Linked DNA regions of Homo sapiens. The protein of the gene in region 1 interacts with the protein of each later gene in a pairwise test. Each region holds a gene or a part of one and is shown in the gene's direction. Other genes may lie near its edges.

What was found.
Region 2: the proteins of GARIN6 (region 1) and RAB2A interact in binary tests that used the Homo sapiens proteins (3 or more experiments, as listed by UniProt).
Region 3: the proteins of GARIN6 (region 1) and FHL3 interact in binary tests that used the Homo sapiens proteins (3 or more experiments, as listed by UniProt).
Region 4: the proteins of GARIN6 (region 1) and RAB2B interact in binary tests that used the Homo sapiens proteins (3 or more experiments, as listed by UniProt).

The regions. Positions count from the first base shown.
Region 1 is NC_000012.12:99,646,617-99,650,552, forward strand, and holds GARIN6 (Golgi-associated RAB2 interactor protein 6), read left to right. Parts: upstream 1-1,136; 5' UTR 1,137-1,558; coding exon 1,559-2,173; intron 2,174-2,671; coding exon 2,672-2,782; 3' UTR 2,783-3,498; downstream 3,499-3,936.
Region 2 is NC_000008.11:60,617,987-60,621,065, forward strand, and holds part of RAB2A (ras-related protein Rab-2A), read left to right. Parts: intron 1-593; coding exon 594-662; intron 663-2,687; coding exon 2,688-2,783; 3' UTR 2,784-3,079.
Region 3 is NC_000001.11:37,999,393-38,002,514, reverse strand, and holds part of FHL3 (four and a half LIM domains protein 3), read left to right. Parts: intron 1-3,082; 5' UTR 3,083-3,102; coding exon 3,103-3,122. UniProt on the Homo sapiens protein: Recruited by SOX15 to FOXK1 promoters where it acts as a transcriptional coactivator of FOXK1.
Region 4 is NC_000014.9:21,463,460-21,466,959, reverse strand, and holds part of RAB2B (ras-related protein Rab-2B), read left to right. Parts: intron 1-1,089; exon of another isoform or gene 1,090-1,443; intron 1,444-3,192; coding exon 3,193-3,304; intron 3,305-3,500. UniProt on the Homo sapiens protein: The small GTPases Rab are key regulators of intracellular membrane trafficking, from the formation of transport vesicles to their fusion with membranes. Rabs cycle between active GTP-bound and inactive GDP-bound states.

The DNA.
Region 1 (3,936 bases):
GATTCCAGCCCGGGTGACAGAGTGAGACTCCATCTCAAAAAAAAAAAAAAAAAAAAAAAAAAAGACTCAACTATGGCTATGGCTCTGTGTGTGTGTGTGTGTTTGTGTTCACATGGGTTATCATGTGTACTGTCATTTCAATAAAGATATTATAATCTTATTGAATTGAAAATATTTGCAATACCTAGCAAAATTCTTTACAGCTTTTTTTTTTCTCAATACAATCTGATGGTAAAGAATAGAGCATAAATGTGATGTTTAAGGCTCTTTTCATTCCATAGCCAGGGTATGAATGTCTAGGTAAAACTCAAAAATTGCATCAACAGTTTGAGGGTGAGTCAAAACATAAAATTTATCATGGCTATAGAAACAGAAAAAAAAAAATACATTGCCAATAAAATAGTTATTTCCCCTGGTAACAGAAATAAATTTCCTAATAAAAATAGAAGTTAAAAAGAAAATGAAAATTATACCTAAGCACTTTAAACATTTCACTGAACATAATTCCATATCCACAAACACATACACGTGGTCTTACATAAATTGAATCTCACCTATACTATGAGTTTGAAATCAGTTTTTCTCTTATTCTTTAAGAAAAAAAAAGGTCAGGGATATCTTTTCATGTCAATAAATAGGAAAACTACGTAATCATTTTTAGGGCTGCAGACTGTCCCGTCACAGAAGCTCCATAATTTATTTAAGCAATCCCCTATTGTAAGACACTAATGCTGTTTATAATTTTTTACTCTACAACAAACATTGATAAACATCCTGTACCAATCTGTTTACCAATTTATCCAATTCTCTCTTTAAAATAAATGTCTACAACTAGAGGAGCTGGATAAATGAGTATACAGAGAATGTATATTAAACTCTTGCCTTGCACAGAAAATTTACCTCTAACCCTTTTGAAAGCAATTTGCCAGAATGCATTAAGGTCCCTAGATGGTAGGTTGGTGGCGGGGTAGTGGTCTGCTGAGCTGTGGAGGGCGGTGGGGCTGAGGGTGGGGTGGAGAGGGCGGTGCCCCTGCTCTGAGGCAGGGACTACTGGGTGACAGAGACAAAGGGGTGTGTGATGGGGCAGGTCACAATGGGTAGGGGAGGATAAAAGTGGTCCTGCGGGGTGGTTTAGCAGCAGTGGATGGTTCAGGTTGGGAAGAAGAGCAGTGGGATTGCCAGTTAAGGTTGTGGAATCAAAGAGCAAAGGCTGTTGTGAAGTGGAATATCAGGCTCAAATGGAGGTCCCTCCCGAATGAGCACTGACACCTGTGTGCCCGGACATCCACGAGGGCCCCAACACCTGTGCTCCTGACAGCTCCATGCACTAAGCAGGGCACAGTCTGGATCCAGGGGACTGACTGTCTCTGGCATTGAGCGGTTGGTAATCAATACCCCACCCTCCCTGTTCTCAGTCACTTGGGGACAAAAAAGAAAGCCTGCAGAACACGACTGCTGGCCCACCTGCCAGAGTAGCCAAGGAAACAGGATGCCCGCTAAAGCATGTTAAGGAAGGTGTGGAGCAGCTGCTGGGAACTGTCTTGATTTAAAGGAAGACATGGAGGACTGCTGTATGCTACCGTATTACACGGCCCAAAGCAGCCCCGCAATGGGCATGTTTAACACCTCCATGGGGAAGCTGCAGCGGCAACTGTACAAAGGCGAGTATACTATATTCAGGTATGCACCCATGTTTGAGAGCGACTTTATCCAGATCAGCAAAAGAGGAGAAGTGATTGACGTGCACAACCGTGCCCGAATGGTAACAATGGGCATCGTTCGCACCAGCCCCTGCCTCACACTACCTGATGTCATGCTGCTGGCCCGACCAGCTGCTGTCTGTGACAATGCCAGGTGTGGTCCTGCCACCCAGAAAAGAGAAAGTCCGCCTGCAGAGATCTTAGAACTAACCAGGCTGCTTCCCTTGATGTTTGTGAAAATAACCATCCACAACAGCGTAAAAAAACAGCTCCACCTGAAGCTTGCCACGGGCCGCTCTTTTTATCTTCAGCTGTGTCCTCCATCGGATGCAAGTGAAGACCTTTTTGTTCACTGGGAAAACCTTGTTTACATCCTGAGACCACCAGTGGAGGCTTACAGTGATACCAGGGCTATCCTAGCTGGGAACACATTGGACTCATCTGTGTTGGAGGAAGTGCAGAGGAGCCCAGTGGTGAGTCTATGCAGAGACTAGATGGGGCCTGGATGCTTTGGGGGAGAGCAGGTACAGGTCCTGTAAAGCCTTTGGTGCTGCAGCTCACCTGGGAAATGCATTGCATTTGGAAGGTCTGAAGGCCAAATGAGCTTCCATTTGGAGGCCATGGTACATTGAGGAGGTTCCTAGTGCTTCTCCAGGGTTCTCCAAGCCTGAATTTCAGAGATTTCTTAGCTGTCAGCAACTCTTCATTTTATATCCACAGCTGTTCATTTTATATCAATGTTGTAATGCTGTCCAAAGCATCCTGACCAGTCTATTCTGAAACACATACTATGACCTAGGCAGGCTGATATGTTGTAGGACGTGTCTCCCTGCAATTGCCACTTATATACATTGGTGGCAACACAACATGTTTGTGTACTTGTGCAATAATTTCTTTTTGTTGTTTACCTATAGGAAGAGAAAGGAGATCTTGCTGGTCTCACTGTCTTTGCTTATTTGTTCTCTCCCTAGGGATATGCCATGAAGTTTTGTGAAGAGAAGGAGCAATTCAGAATCAGTAGACTTCACATGAATGCTGAAATGTTTGGGTCCACCTATTGTGATTATACAATAGAGATATGAATCCAACATACCTCCCACATATACTACGTTCAAGAGTTCACACACCCCTGCAGTCATAAAACCTATAGTGCCTGATGAAGGGGCAGGGTAGCAACAGCAGTAGTGATGACAGTAAGCACCACCACAGGTACCATGGATGTGGCTGCAACCAAGTCTGCAGACTCAGGAGAGAAACACAGCACTGGCAAAAGCAGCCTTCAGAGGTCCAGGAGGAAGTATAGCCAGCATGGCTATTAGTGGGTGCTTCCATGTCTTAATCTTGTTATAGCAAGGGCTGCATGCACATTCTTGTCCTAAAAGGGTACTTCAAGCATATCAGTAAGTGCTACTGGCCTCTCCCTAGAGAGCAGTATGAATGTGGTGGCTACAGGAGCAGAGAGATACTGAGAAGGCTGTTGCATTGACAGTATCTCTCTGCTACTCAAAGGCTGACTCTCTGCTACTCAGCATTGGGAGTCAGTTATCTCAACTCTGCAGGATGAGGCCACATGCGTGAATGGGATGGAAGCCAGAGGGTCTCTACCTAGCTGGATTGACTCTGCAGTAATAACCTCAAAGCCCAGTACTACACATGGTGCAGAGGTGGACATCTCACCTAAGACTGTGGAGGGGAACAATGTGATTCACCATAATAAAATCCATCAACTCAAATTATCTGCTCTAATAACATATGCTCTATTGACAGGAAGGGTAGCAATAAAACTAATGGCAATTTATGATCAGGCTCTGAAAACTATCTTTAACTTTCCCTTAACTTTATATTTTTTAAATAAATTAATAGATGACAGAATAAAATGTTGAAGATTACTCTCAGATATGATCCTACATTAGGAGAATTATTCTAAAACTGTTTTCCAAAATATAAAATGAGAACCCAGGAATACACACACACAGACTCTCTCTCTCTCTCCTCTCTCTCTCCAGGTTTGAATCACAGCATTGCCACACATTAACTGTGAGTTTCAGTAGATTGTTTCTTTAAATGGTCACCTTGAGACCATACATGTATAATATCTGGAACATAGTAGGCACTGTGTAAATGGTAGTGTTGAGAAACAAATTCTGAGTTTAATCATACTTTCCAGAAAGGGCTTAATTTTCCCAGTCTCTTCATTCTTGATTTCCTTTCTTAAATCTTAATTAACTGCTTTGCA
Region 2 (3,079 bases), on another chromosome or scaffold:
TGTCTGCCTTCTTTCATTTAGCACAGTGTTTTCAAGGTTCATCCACATTGTAGCATGAATCAGTACTTCATTCCTTTTTATGGCCAAATAATATTCTACTAATTGAATATCTCAAATTTTGTTTTTTATTGACTGAACATTTCTGTAGTTTGCACTTGTTGGCTGTTGTGAATAATGCTGTTTGTAATGCTAATTAGCATGTGCGTACATCCTTTGTTCTTAATCTTAGGGGAAAGGCTTTCAGCCTTCATCTTCGAATATGATGTTAGATGTAGTTTTTCTTAGATGCCATTCTTTAGATCAGGTTGAGGAGTTCCCTTCTATTTCGACTTGAGTGTTTTTATCATGAAATGTTGGATTTTGTCAAATGCTTTTTCTATGTCTATTGATGATCATGAGGGCTTGTTTATTAATATAATGTATTACATCGATTGTTCTTTATTAATATGTTATTAATATCTTTGTTCTTTATTAATATGTATTACGTCGATTGACTTTCATATGTTGAATGTTATGATATTCTATAGAGCATATATAATGTTATTTTACTGCTTTGGTTTTATATAATATGAACCAATTTCTCTATATTTCAGGCATTTATTAATACAGCAAAAGAAATTTATGAAAAAATTCAAGAAGGAGTCTTTGACATTAATAATGAGGTATATACATATAAATATTGTTGGTCAATATTAATTTAGAGTTCACTTTTGATTACTATTTTATATTTTTTATTTTATAATTCATTATTTTATAATTTTTTTAATTCCTAAAATCAATCATGATAATCAGTTAACACCATTAGTTTACAGTCATCCAACTGAAAAATTGGTATATGTGGTATAGTAGTTAAATATTTATGTTCTAGTAGAGCAACACTTTGTCTATGGAAATGGATTAAAGTAAGTGGCCCTATCCATTCATTGCAAGCAATGCAAAATAATATAAATCCCCCAAAGAGAAAAGAAAATCCACTTTTATCCACATGACCATATGGTGTCATCTGCTTTGGGAATAATGTTCTGGTATATAAATGCATGTACTATGTACTAATGCAAGATGCTCTCTCTGTTATCTGGCAGGAAAGAGGGAAATACCAAATTTGGAAATTACTCCCAATATAGCATAGCATGTTTTCAGGAGACTAAATTCATATATATATATATAAAATTGGCATTTGGCATAGGGTTTTTTGTAATGTTATTTTGATCCTGTTTTGGTCAACATGATTAGGATAAAATGTAAAGCTTTGAAGCATCTAATTCAGAGTGTTCACCAAAGATCATCACTTGACCCACATCCCCACTCTGCATTTATCTGTATTTATTTCAAAATGTTTATGTGGATGTAGCCTACTTATTCTTACATAAATATTTTTGCCATTCTGTATTAAGATTTCTGGCTTCTGAAAGAAAAGCCCTGGTTTCTCCCCAGTTGCAGTTAGAAAAGCATTGTGTTAGGAAGCCATTATGTATGTCTCTCTCATCCTATACATAAATGAGGCTCTCTATTACTTCAGTAGTCTCTGCTCAGACAAACAGCAGTTTACCTAAGGTTTCCAAAAAGTACATGATTTTTTCATTGTTTAATTTGGAGTAATATAGTTTCTAAATCCTATCTTCTAGGCTTATATGACGGTACTTCTTGAGTTAGTTTAAAGGTGACACCATTCAGAGACTAATGCCATATAAATTGAACAGTAATTGGGCCTCTATCTAAAAGGGCACATTCATTGTTTCTGTCTGGTTTCATATAGTAGCTGACTGCTTTACTGTGCCTTATGCAGCTTTGATTGTAATGTGCTGTTGGGAGCCAACAGGCCGTGCTATTTATTTGGCCTAATGCCAAGTCTGACTCCTTGACTCCTCAAGAAGTTGCTACCAGCCCAGAGGGGGCAAAATCAATGAGCCATAGGGCATGCTTTTTATTAAAGAGGAGTCAAAAGAGCGAAAAGAAACCACATCAGCTGCTGTCAATACTGAGCTAGTGCCAGAAACCCCAAGGCTACTACTGTTGCAGAACAACTGCCAAGCACTATAAATCTGAGATTTACTGTGACGTAAAGTTTCCTTAAGAGCTTAATTTCTGAAGCTACTGTATTACTTTTCTCAAAGTGTTGTATTTTTAGGTAAAATCCACTTGAGGGAGTGAGGGTTAAGACATAAGTGTGAGTTTGATGAATGAAAGAACTACTCTGTGTGTGGGTTCTTGGCAAGCTGCCATGTCTTTGGGGATCATAGAAATTATTGATGACACAGAACACTCATATGCCCTTAGCCTGTACAGCTGATTCAACATGGAACAGAAACACTGTCTAGAGAAAAGATTTTACGTTGTATTAAAGCAGCATGGGCTTTGGGTATTTTTATGCTTTAAAGATTACTTGCAATAATTATTTTAAATGATTTCTGCATTATGAGAATTTCCTGAAAAGCAGCATTATCCAATAACTGTTTACCCCGTACCTGGTATGATAAAGAATTATTTTCAGAAACATTTCCACAGTGTTTTTAAAAGGAAGGAACATCCCTTAGGAGATATTGTTTTAATTGTTGCTAAAATCTACTTGCTGTATTTTTCTCAGTTGTTTGATAAAATTGTATCATAAAGAATTAAATGAGTTTTTTAAGAATTAGTTAAACTATATTGTCTGGTCATATTTATTGTTCTGTTCTCTTTTATTTCAGGCAAATGGCATTAAAATTGGCCCTCAGCATGCTGCTACCAATGCAACACATGCAGGCAATCAGGGAGGACAGCAGGCTGGGGGCGGCTGCTGTTGAGTCTGTTTTTACTGTCTAGCTGCCCAACGGGGCCTACTCACTTATTCTTTCACCCCCTCTCCTCCTGCTCAGCTGAGACATGAAACTATTTGAAATGGCTTTATGTCACAGAAGACTTTAATCCGTCAAATTCTTGTATAACTTTGAATAAATGGTTAATGTTCACTTAAAAGACAGATTTTGGAGATTGTATTCATATCTATTTGCATTTGATTTCTAGGTCAATTGATGTGATTATTTTTGTTAAATGTTGTCTTGTGCCCTTAACTACGAACTGAATTGTATTAAACACTACA
Region 3 (3,122 bases), on another chromosome or scaffold:
TGCCTGTAATCCCAGCACTTTGGGAACCCAAGGCAAGAGGATAGCTTGAGCCCAGGAGTTTGAGACCAGCCTGCGCAGCATATTGAGACCCCATCTCTATTTAAAAATTCTAGTCCAGGCAGGGTGTGGTGGTTCATGCCTGTAATCCCAGCACTTTGGGAGGCTGAGGCAGGGAGATCATGAGGTCAGGAGTTCGAGACCATCCTGACTAACACAGTGAAACCCCGTCTCTACTAAAAATACAAAAAATTAGCCGGGCGTGGTAGCAGGTGCCTGTAGTCCCAGCTACTCGGGAGGCTGAGGGAGGAGAATCACTTGAACCCGGGAGGTGGAGGTTGCAGTGAGCCGAGATTGCGCCACTGTACCCCAGCCTGGGCGACAGAGCGAGACTCTGTCTCAAAAAAAAAAAAAAAATTCCAGTCCAGCTGCTTGACCCAGACCTGCCTGTGAAACTGCTATCTGGCCCCAGTATGAGTGAGGGCGCTAATAGTAAAATACTAATAGCTACCATTTTCTGAGTATTTATTATCTGCCAGGTGCTTTACAAGTATCATCACATTTAAGCCTGACAACAAACTTAGGAGGTAGGAAGTGGTAGTATCTCATTTAATTAGATGGGAAAACAGGCTTAGGGATTTGCCCAAGATCACTCAGCCAGTAAGTGCAGGAGCCAGGATTCAAACCTTACAGCTTGAGCTGCTCCATACACCATAGCCAGTTACGCAGTCATTCTGAGCTCCAGGAGGTTCACTGGGAGGTGCCTTGTGAGGGGAGATTGTTGGAGGTGCAGGGTTGTGAGCCATCTGTAGAGGAGCAGTCTCCCCCAAACCCCGCCCCACTGCCGGTCAGGAAGGAATACAAGGCTGGCTCCCTTCAGTCCCCGCAGTCCCCAGCCTTGCCAGGGAAAAGGGCAGGGAGAGGGGTATGGGCAGAGACAGGTGGGCCTTGTTGGTGCCCTTTACTCTGTCCTCACCAGAGCCCAGCTGGATAGACTAGGGCATTGGGGGATTCTGGGAAGGAAATAGAAGCCATGCCCATACCCTATTTGGGTTGCCCTGGTTTCGGAGTGCTGACTGTCTCTCAGGGGGTGGACCCAAGTCTAGCCTGGGCCTGAGAAGGTGGCAGCCGCAGTGGGCCAAGCCAAGAAGGAAGGAAGAGGCCCAGGCACCCCCTGTGGACGCATTCCACCTGTGTGGCCCCCTGCTGCCCCGTGGCTGACAGCCCAGGCAATCCTCAGATGTTGGGCCAGAGGAAACCTGGGCCTGAGTGGCAGGAAGGGGGCTGAGAAAGAGGAGTATCTTCTCTACACCATAGCCCCCAGCCCAGGAGTTCCAGCTCTAAAGACCCTGGCCCCTGGTGGCCTCATGCCCTGGCCTGGAGCGCAAGCTGGCTGTTCTCCCATTGCGCAGAGGCTTGATGTATGGAGAGTCAGGCCTCCAAGCTGGGGGCATCTGCTGGTGCCTGGAGTCTGAACTTCAAGCCAGAGCAGCGCTTGTTGTCAAGAATTTCGCACTGGGGGTGGATGAGAAAAGGAGGACTTCTCCTTCAGCTTGAGCCAGGGCAGGCCCTGGCGACTGCCAGCACTGGAGCCTTGTGGGAGAGTGGGTTGGTGGATTCCTTTGTGTGTCCCTGTAACTTCCCCGGGCTCATCCACAGCTGTGAGAACATCTCCTTCCTATGGGTCCTGGTGGTTCCTCTCCACTACCCCAGGATCCCAGCCCTTAGAGAGCAGCCTTCATGATGGAGGAGAGCAGGGGTGGGAGCTCTGACTTTGGGGCTAGAGACTGGAATCCGGGGCAGCAGAAAGGTCTGGGAACCCCACTTCCCTACCGCTCCACTCCCTAGGCTCCTGTTCCAGAGGCAGCTGTGTGGATGACCTCATCCCACAAACATGCTTTGTTCCTGAGAAAATGGAAAGTGTCTGAGGTTTGGTCGGGGGCTGGGTGTCTCCAGCAGCAGCTCTCAGGGCTCCCCCTTGTCCTACTCCCCACCCAAGATGGGGCCTGATTGGGGAGAAAATGTCTTCAGTGGCTCTTGCTCTCTCTCCTTTCAGCTCCCTAGTCCCAAACCCTGAGAAATCGGAAAAGGTGGGAGAGACCTTCTCTCCCAGAGGCAGTAGGAGGGAAATCATGACCCCAGGGGATGGAAAGATCCTGGGGTTTTGCCAGATGTTAGCAGGAGGTGGCAGGGGGTACACTGCACTCCCAGTCTGTCTCCAGTTCCCCTCTGCCTCCCCCGACACTTCATTTTCCTTTTTTCTCCCCATTGCTGGCAAAACCTGACATCTGGCCATCTGTGCCGCCACAGCTGCTGCAGATGTTACAGGCCAAGGCTGTCCAAGCTGGTGTGACACAGCGGGGGTGGGGGGATGAGGGCAGAGGGTCTAGCTAGGGAAGACTGGCTGTGTCCAGCTTGCAGGATTTCCTTCCTGCTTGAACCTAAGCTGAGCCTCTGAAGTTCCCATTGCTTGGCTGATTCCCCGGGAGGGAAGGCCCAACCTCTCACACTGGCCTCTTCTACCATTCATTAGTCCAGCACCTCTCTAGCATTCCACTGTTTTCTGGATCAGGAGGGGCAGGCACAGCCCATTCCCGTCTCTAAGTTCTGTACTCCAGAGCTCTGGTTAAGGGTTCCTTTATCCATATTCCTAAAGTCCCTTCCTGGGAGTCAGGAGAGGGTGGGAGTACTGCTCATAAGGAGTAGAGTGGGGTGGCTCCCTGCCCCTGCTTCTCCCACGCTGGGGACAGTCGGGACAGTGGAGGCTAGACGCTGGCTGGGACAGGAAATGAGTCACTGACCCAGGAAAAGCCCCCTCCCCCTAGATCTGCTAGGGCCTAGATAAGAAAACAACTTCTGCTTCCTGGTTTTTTTCCTGACCTCTTCCTACCCCGAGTTAAATACAGAAAGAAACATGTGGGATTCCTGGTTTCCCAGAAGCACCCCTTCCCCATCCCCACCTACTCTGAACTGGCATTTCCTATGCCGGGTCTCTTGGCTGTGTTTTGAATGCAGAGGCCTCTTTGCCAGGAGCCAAGCCACAGCCTCTCTGTGTGACCCCAGTTCCACCTTGTGCTCCTAACAGGGTTCTCTCCCCTTGCCACCATGAGCGAGTCATTTGACTG
Region 4 (3,500 bases), on another chromosome or scaffold:
ACTCCAGCCAGGGCGACAGAGTGAGACTTTGTCTCAAAAAAAAAAAAATTATTTCATTCTTAAATAGCAACAGTTACTTACTAAAGACCTCTATGTGTCTGTTGGGCACTGCATAGCTTCTCAAACCTTGGAATCACGATTGCACACTGCTACTCTCATTTCCCATTTCATATTGATTTTTGTGTAGTGCTTGCTTTTTTATAACAGCAACTGCCAGAAACAGCTTCTCAGAGATATGAAGATATTGAACGAATTTTATCATGGTCTGATATTGACATTGCAACTGTCTTAAGCTTGTAATTCATGTAGTAAGTATCCTTGTGTTGAGTGTTACTGTGTTTTTCTCAAAAGTTTGAGGTATCCCATGGCACCCTTGTGAGTTTGTAGTAGTGCCCAGAGTGTACTATTTGAGAACTGTGGCCACAGGCTAATTGGTTTTTTGTTTGTTTGTTTGTTTTCATTTGTTTGTTATGAGATGGAGTTTCACTCTTGTCACCCAGGCTAGAGCACAATGGCATGATCTCGTCTTACTGCAACCTCCACCTCCTGGGTTCAAGCGATTCTCCTGCCTCAGTCTCCCGAGTAGCTGGGATTACAGGCATGTGCCACCAAGCCCAGTTAATTTTTTTGTATTTTTAGTATAGACGGGGTTTCTCCATGTTGATCAGGCTGGTCTTGAACTCCTGACCTCAGGCGATCCGCCTGCCTCGGCCTCCCAAAGTGCTGGGATTACAGGCGTGAGCCACCACACCCATCCTGCTAATTATTTTTAGTGTATCAGTCAATGTATTGAAAACGACTGTGCCAGATTCTGAGTTTGCAAGGTGGAAAAAAGTCGTCCCCCTGCTCTTGTGCAGCTTACAGTCTAGTGGGGGCATAGATGTTAAATATAAAATTATTTGTATCAAATTGTAAATTGTGATAAATGCAATGGAGGAAAAAGGGTGCTACGAAAGAATAACAGGGTACCTACTTTTGATTAGGAGTGATATTAAGCTGGGATCTGAAGGATGGGCAAGAGCCTGCTGGGCAAAGATTTTTTTAAAAGGGTATTACTTGGGGGGAACAAACTATACAAACACCTTGAACTTGGAAGAAGCTTGACACGTTTATTGAAAGAAACCTAGTGTGATTGGACTAAATCAAGAGGGAATAGTGCAAGATGAGGTTGGAAAAGTAGGTAGGGACCAGATTTTATAGCACCTTAGAGGCCTGAGTAAGGGTTTTGGATTTTATTCTAAATACATGGAAATTGAAGCTTGGGAGATGGGGGATTAAAAATAATAATAAATAAATACACCTGAAGCATTTTAAAGTTTTAAGTAGAGAAGTGGCTTGATCAGATTTTAAAAGATCACTCTGGAGGAGAACAAGGACTGAAGTAGTATCCCAGTTGCAATAGTCCACATGAGAAAGAATGGTAGCTTGGTCTAGGAAGTGACCCTGGAAAGAGAAAGAAAGGATAATTTTAAGGTACATATTGGAAGTACTTCACTTTGGAATGGATTAGATATTTGGAGTAGGGAGCAAAGGGTATCAATAATAACACTTTGGTTTTTGGCTTATGCCATTTACTGAGATACAGAAGCCTGCAGCAAACACAGGCTAGGGGAAAAGAAGTTCCATTTTGATGTGTTAAGTTTGAAGTCCGTTTTATGTATCAGTGTGGAAATGAAGAATTCACAAATGTACAAATCTGGTGCTTAGTCAAGCATCTGGGCTAGAGGTACAAATTTGGGAGGGTTGACATTTAGATCTTCCCTGGTCTTCACACAGCTGATGGTATAATAAATTAAAATATTGTAGATTTGTTGTTCTTTAATGGTCTTACACTTTTTTTCCAAGGAGTTGGAAAACTGGAAACCTCCCAAATGAAAATTTTCAAATTGAAAAATACGAATCACAAACAGCCCAACCTTGCCTTATTCTTCAGTTTGTTTTTTTGGTTTTGTTTTTTTTTTGCGACAAGGTCTCGTGCTGTTGCCCAGGCTGGAGTACAGTAACGTGCTCAGCTCACGGCAACCTGTTTCCAGGGCTCAAGAGATCCTCTCACCTCAGCCTCTCACGTAGCTGGGACTACAGGCATGTGTCACCACGCTCTGCTGATTTTTAAATTTTTGTAGAGACAGGGTCTCACTGTATTGTGCAGGCTGTTCTTAAACTCCTGGGCTCAAGTAATCCTCCTGCCTCAGCCTCCCACAGTGCTGGGATTATAGGCATGAGCCACCACGCCCAGCTCTGCAGCCTTTTATCCTGTTTTTCATAAGGTCTTTTGTTGCCATTTTTATTCCCTTTTTCAGTCCTTAGCTCTTATCTTTTTTTTCACCTAATTTTATCCATATCACTGTCTCTGAATTCCCTGGTGGCAAGCTGCTTTTATATGCACTAGTAACGAAACCAGTGAGACTTAAGACAACTGTGTTTTCCTTATTCCTGGCTCATTCTCTTCTTGTGGCTTGATTCCAGTAAAAAAGGAAGATGCTCATCACTGCTGGATGGGACATCTTATGACTTTTCTGCTTTCTAGTAACTAGAGTTTTCCTTTTTTTCTTCCCCGCCCAAGAGACAGTCTTGCTCTGTCGCTGAGGCTGGAGTGCAATGGCGCGATCTCAGTTTACTGCAACTTCCGCCTCCCATGTTCAAGCAATTCTCTTGCCTCAGCCTCCCGAGTAGCTGGGATTACAGGCACCTGCCACCATACTCAGCTAATTTTTGTATTTTTAGTAGAGACGGGATTTCACCATCTTGGCCAGGCTGGTCTTGAACTCCTGAACTCGTGATCCACCTGCCTCGGCATCCCAAAGAGCTGGGATTACAGGCATGAGCCACTGTGCCCAGCCAAGTTTTTTTTTTTCCTCATCTATACTTTGCTCTCCTTGATCTCATTGGAAAAACAAGCAATAGAGCATAAGCTTTGTGTAACTATGGGGGCTTGCCTAACCCTTGATAAGCCATTTTCTCTGTAATAGAGTGAGGTATTATCTTCAACTATGCAGCAGCTGTCCCAAAACTAAAGAATATTTTCCAAGATGCTACAAAAATCAGTAACTCTGTATAAGAGTATCATGTAGGATCTACATTCTTTATGAAATAACTGGCAGTTGAAACCACGACGGAATTCTTTTAGAAATAGACTTTCCTCTTTCACTTGGATCTTTTTTTTAAATTTTCTCCTTAATTAATCTCTTGCAGTGACCTAGAGTCCCGCAGGGATGTGAAGAGAGAAGAAGGAGAGGCCTTTGCTAGGGAGCATGGACTTATATTCATGGAAACTTCAGCCAAAACAGCCTGCAATGTTGAAGAGGTACTATTTGGAAAACAGTGGGGAAAGCTCTTTAGAGATTACACCATTATTTGTCCTTGTATTCAGAATTCTCTTCTCCTATAAGAAATTGGTAAAGAAAGGATGTCTTGGCCGAGCGCGGTGGCTCATGCCTGTAATCCTAGCGTTTTGGGAGGCCAAGGCAGGCAGATTGCGTGAGCTCAGGAGTTTGTGACCA